Linked DNA regions of Homo sapiens: region 2 is linked to region 1. Evidence: fine-mapped expression QTL. Tissue or cell type: whole blood. Region 1 holds a variant in brackets; the other region holds the start of a gene. All regions are shown on one strand. Distances are from middle to middle.

Region 1 (2,838 bases):
TCCATCTCAAAAAAAAAAAAAAACCAAAGTTTTAGTACCATCAGCTGTGGCTGAATCTTCCCGATTGATCAGGGCAAGGGTAGTGGAGCCTGTGGTGGGGCTGGACCCTGTGCAACTGTTCCTAAAACCCACAGGGAAAGTCACAGCCAGGATGTTTCCTGCCAGGGTCTGTGGTAAAAGTGAGGACATAGCTCACAGGGGAGGAAGTTTCACAACCCCTACACTCAGGCCCTGATGAAAGTGACTGTGGCTGGGCGCGGTGGCTCACGCCTGTAACCCCAGCACTTTGGAAGGCCGAGGCGGGTGGATCACGAGGTCAGGAGATCGAGATCATCCGTCTCTACTAAAAATACAAAAATTAGCTGGGAGTGGTGGCAGGTGCCTGTAATCGCAGCTACCCGGGATGCGGAGACAGGAGAATTGCTTGAACCCAGGAGGTGGAGGTTGCAGTGAGCTGAGATAACATCACTGCACTCCAGCCTTGTGACAGAGCAAGACTCCATCTCATTAGAAAAAAAAAAAAAAAGGAAGAAGAAGACTGCATCCTAGCAGCCCCTGGGCAACTTTTGAGTGCTATATGATGGTCTGCAGGTGACTTTGCTACTTTGGACCTCAGTCTATCCCTCTTTCAAATTGGAGGGTTGGCCTCATTGTACAAGCTGATGAGGATTTTAGCTGCTTGAAGTTTGGAGCCAGAACTGGCTTTCAGAGTCGTCTCCATCATTTTCCAGCACTGCTGTGTAGGCCACACACTCAGAGCTTCCCTCTCAGCCTCAGTTTCCCCATTCATAGGTGGAGAATGATGATTTCCATTTTCTAGCCAGTTCGTGGTGAGCTAGTGATGCTGGTGATGGTCATGGGAACAGTGGGTAGCACTCGGTATCCTCTCTATGTGACAACAAAGAGGCACAGAAACCTCAGATGTGGCCTCCCACGGGACAGTCATTCAATGCCAGTTAGAGACACCATTTTGTCACACTGCCTGTAAAAGCAAATCAGGCCAGGCATGGTGGCTCACGCCTGTAATCCCAGCACTTTGGGAGGCCGAGGCAGGTAGATCACCTGAGGTCAGGAGTTTGAGACCAGCCTGACCAACACAGTGAAACCCTGTCTCTACTAAAAATACAAAAATTAGCCGGGTGTAGTGGCACGCGCCTGTGGTCCCAGCTACTTGGAGGCTGAGGCACGAGAATCGCTTGAACCCGAGAAGAGGAGATTGCAGTGAGCCAAGATGGCGCCATTGCACTCCAGCCTGGGCAGAAAGAGCGAAACTGTCTCAGAAAAAGCAAAAAAA[C/AC]AAAACAAAAAAACGCAGCAAATCCATGTTCACAACGTGCTAGCGAGCAGCATAGGTTTTACTGATGATGGGTTTGGTTGGGGTAGAAGACAGTTTTCATCGTACACCATATAGTAAAGCAATTTAAATTCCTATTACTCATCTCCATAAACCCTCCAAATGTTCTTCCCAGGCACCTGACACCTCCTATTTCCTTTCCTTCTGCCTTTCCCCACGTGGCTTCTAAAATGCCTTTTTATCCTGAATGATTTAGTTTTACCTGCAAACAAGCAAACACCATACTGCAAAATTTCTCCAGTTAACAGATTTCATACTCAAGTGACTTCTCAAAGTATTCCCTCAAAGGAAACAGGTCTCTTCCGGAATGGCAAAAGGGAAATTCTGCTGATAGAAAAACAAGCATTTCTCTGTGCCTTTCTAGTACTAACACAGAGAAATGTTTCTCAGCAGAATCACTAGGGGAGCTTTATATTATAAAAACATGTATTTAGCCAGGCGTGGTGGTTCACACTTGTAATCCCAGCACTTTGGGAGGCTGAGGTGGGAGGATCACTTGAGCTCAGGTGTTCCAGACCAGCTTGGGCAACATAGTGAGACCTCATCTCTATTCAAAAAATTAATATAAGAAAAAAAGGAAAAAGAAACATATGTTTGATGGCCCCTGCCCCACCAAGATCCTGATTCAGGAAGTCTAGAGAGGGACCAATTTCATATACATATTTATATATTTATAATTCTTATTGTAATGTATATAAAATATTTCATCTATATATAATTTTTTTTTTTGAGACGGAGTCTCACTCTGTGGCCCAGGCTGGAGTGCAGTGGTGTGATCTCGGCTTACTGCAACCTCCGCCTCCCAGGTTCAGGAGATTGTCCTGCCACAGCCTCCCGAGTAGCTGGGATTACAGGCACACGCCACCATGCCTGGATAATTTTTGTATTTTTATTTATTTTTTTATTTTTAATTTGTTGTTGTTGTTGAGACAGAGTCTCACTCAGTCACCCAGGCTGGAGTGCAGTGGCGTGATCTCGGCTCACTGCAACCTCCACCTCCAAGGTTCAAGTGATTCTCGTGCCTCAGCCCCCCGAGTAGCTGGAATTACAGGTGCGCGATAGCACATCCGGCTAATTTTTGTATTTTTAGTAGAGACGGGGTTTCGCCATGTTGGCCGGGCTGGTCTCAAACTCCTGACCTCAAGTGATCTGCCCACCTTGGCCTCCGAAAGTGCTGGGACTACAGGCGTGAGCCACCACACCCAGCCTTCTATATATAATTTTTATAAATGTCCCTGATGATAATAATTTCTCTTCTAGTTGAAAACCAACAGGGCAAATTAGCACCTGCTTTGAATGGGTTTATCCTTGTGATGCTAGGCAAGTGAGGCCCCAAAACAGGGCTTACCCCGGGATAGTTCTTGGCTTCACACAGGAAAGAATTCAAGGGAGTGGCAAGCAGGTGGTGGTGACAACTTCTATTATTTATTTATTTATTTATTTATTTATTTGAGATGGTGTCTCTGTTACCCAGCCTGGAATGCAGT
Region 2 (2,669 bases), 39 kb before region 1:
CTGGCCCAGCGTCCCGTGCTCTAGAAGGCGGGCTACTGCCCCGTCCCAAGCAGGGGAGGAGGACGAGCGAGGGCGTCACTCATTCTGTCCCCCGCGGAAGGTGGGCTAGCCGCGGAGGGGGGCGCGCAGGGGAGGGGGGCGCGCCGAGGGGAGGGGAGGGGAGGGGTCCACCCCGCCCTTAGGGCCTCCAGCCATCGCCCGAGATCAGAGCTCAGGAATGCGCAGCCAGACCCTGGAGGGTGAGGAAACACCCCTCCGGGATTCCTCGCAGCGCACCCGACTCTCCGGGCCACACCCAGCCCCTCAGTGTCCTCCCTCGTCCACTCCAGACGCCACACCCATCGCTCACGCTGAGAATCGGGCCCCGGAACCCCAGCTTCGGCTCTCGGCACCCAGAGGTGCGGGACGCAGCCCTGTCTTCTCCTCCTTTCCCAGCTCCTTCTGCACTTCGGAAGCACGGGGCTGGATCTTAACACCCCCCTCCCTCGGCCTTTCAGGAGCCCAAAGTTCCGATTCTGTCTGTCCCCTGGATGGGGAGGGGTCAGTAATTCTGAATTCCTTCCATTCTCATTCCCAAACCCAGGACACCTAACCCTAAGCGCTTCCCCTCCTAAAGGACCTCCACGTACCAGATTCCAGCCTCCAACTAGGGCACCTACGAGTCCCCATCTCTCTACTCCCGCAGACCCAGCCCCTCCTCCCTCAGACTCAGGAGTCCAGGCCCAGCTCCTCCTCCCTCAGACCCAGGAGTCCAGGCCCTCAGCCCCTCCTCCCTCGGACCCAGGAGTCCAGACCCCCCAGCCCCTCCTGCCTCGGACCCGGGAGTCCAGACCCCCAGCCCCTCCTCCCTCAGACCCCGGAGTCCAGGTCCCCTTCCCCACTCTTCCAGACGTATGACCTCCACAGTCCAGGTCCTCAGCCCTCTCCTCTGCAGAACCCCAAGAATCCTGGCCCAGCCCCAGTCTTTCTAGGGACCCAGACATTCTGAGACCCAGCCCATTCCTCTCTCTGGCCATAAAGACCCTAGACTGTTGCTTATGCCCTCTGGGGTCCCCACAACCTCACCTCAGGCAGCCAGTGGCGACTGCGGCTGAAGCAAAGACGACAGCGGCAGCTGGAAGGGTCTGAGGGCTGGGTGGGGTTGGAGGGCTGGGGAGCCAGCGCGGGCGGGACGGGGGCGGGGCCGGGGCGGGGCGCAGCTCCGGCTAGGGCGGTGGACAGGGACTTCCCCGAGTCTGGGCTATCCCAGCCCCGCCCCGAGGCGGGGCCAAGAGCAGACCACGCCCCCCAGAGTAAAAGTAGCGTGGAGCTCCCGCCCCACCCCAGTGAGCAGGGTGGAGGGCTGAGGTCACGGTTGCCGTGGTGACAAAACAGGAAGACACAACAGCTGGCGGCGTGGAGACTCCTGGGGGCTGCCCTCCTCGACACAGCCCTAGAGGAGTCTCCCGGGTAGGCCAGGGAAGACCGTTACCATAGAAACCCCGCATGTTTAGGGTTTGTTTAGTGCAGAGCCCCCCAGCTCAGGTCCCCGCCCCCGTCTCACCTCACTCCTTTCTTCCGCTCCCTTCCTACCCCCTCCTTCCTGGTCTGTTCCGCCCCCACCCCTTCCTTGCCGGATGAAACCTTAGACACCTGGGTCGCAGCGGATTGGGGGACCAGGCCCCTCAGTTCAATGGGGGGGCTAGGATCTCTGTCTCTTGGAGCCCTGAGGGAGAGCAGAATTGAGAGCAGTATTCCTGGGCTTTAGGTGGTTCTGGGCTACGATCCCTGACTGATGGGTCTCCCCAAGAAACAGAGGCTAGATTCCTGTATTTAAGGACTTGAAGGGGCGGCAAAATGCTCCCCTAGTACCCACTGGCACCGGGCGCCGCAGGGTAAGGGACTCGGGCTGGACGCAGGTCTCAGATATCACAGTGGATAGGGGTGGGGTGTGTTGGGGGCAAAATTCCTGGGAGCTAGCGCGGTAGCAGTTGGGGGCCCGGATTCCTGGGCTCCACAGGATGCCTAGGCTGAGGCCCAGATTCTTGGCTCAAAAGAACAATCAGGCCTGGGCGCGGTGGCTCACGCCTGTAATCCCAGCATTTCGGGAGGCTGAGGAGGGAGGATCCCTTGAGCCCAGGAGTTCGAGACCAGCCTGGGCAACATAAGGAGACTCTGCTCTATTAAAAATAAATCATCATGATCATCATAATAGAACCATTAAAGCTCAGACTCGGGTTTTCCGAGCAGGTGTTGCAAGCCTAGCCGCCTGGGTCTGGAAGGCAGCGATATTTTTGGCCTACATTCCTGACTCCTGGATGGAGGGAGGGACTCAGAATTTTAATGAGGATGGGGCTGGGGCTGGGGCTTGGGGCTCTGGATTCACGGATCCTGCAAGAGGGGAAGGGATCCAAGGGGCTGGTGGGCCCGAAGCCCCAGGGCAGGGAAGGGATGCAGGGTGTGTTTTTAAAAGGCGGCTCTGCGGCCCTAAAACGGACTGCCGGAGCCAAAAGAAAAAGAGGGAGCTGAGGGTCGGGATGTCGGGCCCCCGGGGAGGGGCAGGGCGGGGACCTGGGACGCCTGAGTCCCTCCCTCTGGCCGCGTTCACTCACCGCGCTCTGCAGTCGTCCCGGGCGCGGCCTGGCTGGCTGCGGCCGCTGGGCGGGGCCTGGTGGCGGCTGCGGATGCTC

Evidence for each region. PIP is the estimated chance that this variant, and not a neighbour inherited with it, causes the effect.
Region 2: MYADM starts here. The variant in region 1 is fine-mapped to the expression of MYADM in whole blood (INTERVAL, PIP 0.92).

The regions. Positions count from the first base shown.
Region 1 is chr19:53,827,569-53,830,406 of GRCh38, reverse strand. No RefSeq gene overlaps it. Among named protein-coding and RNA genes, the nearest start is that of NLRP12, 4.7 kb to the right of the region's middle. RefSeq lists an enhancer at 83-852. The variant C/AC (reference allele first, on the strand shown) is at 1,295.
Region 2 is chr19:53,866,340-53,869,008 of GRCh38, reverse strand. It overlaps MYADM (myeloid associated differentiation marker), which reads right to left and starts at 1,126. Exons shown (of 3, transcript NM_138373.5): 1 at 1,066-1,126. It overlaps MYADM-AS1 (MYADM antisense RNA 1), which reads left to right. Exons shown (of 3, transcript NR_184033.1): 1 at 1-100. RefSeq lists enhancers at 1-236, 1,346-2,321.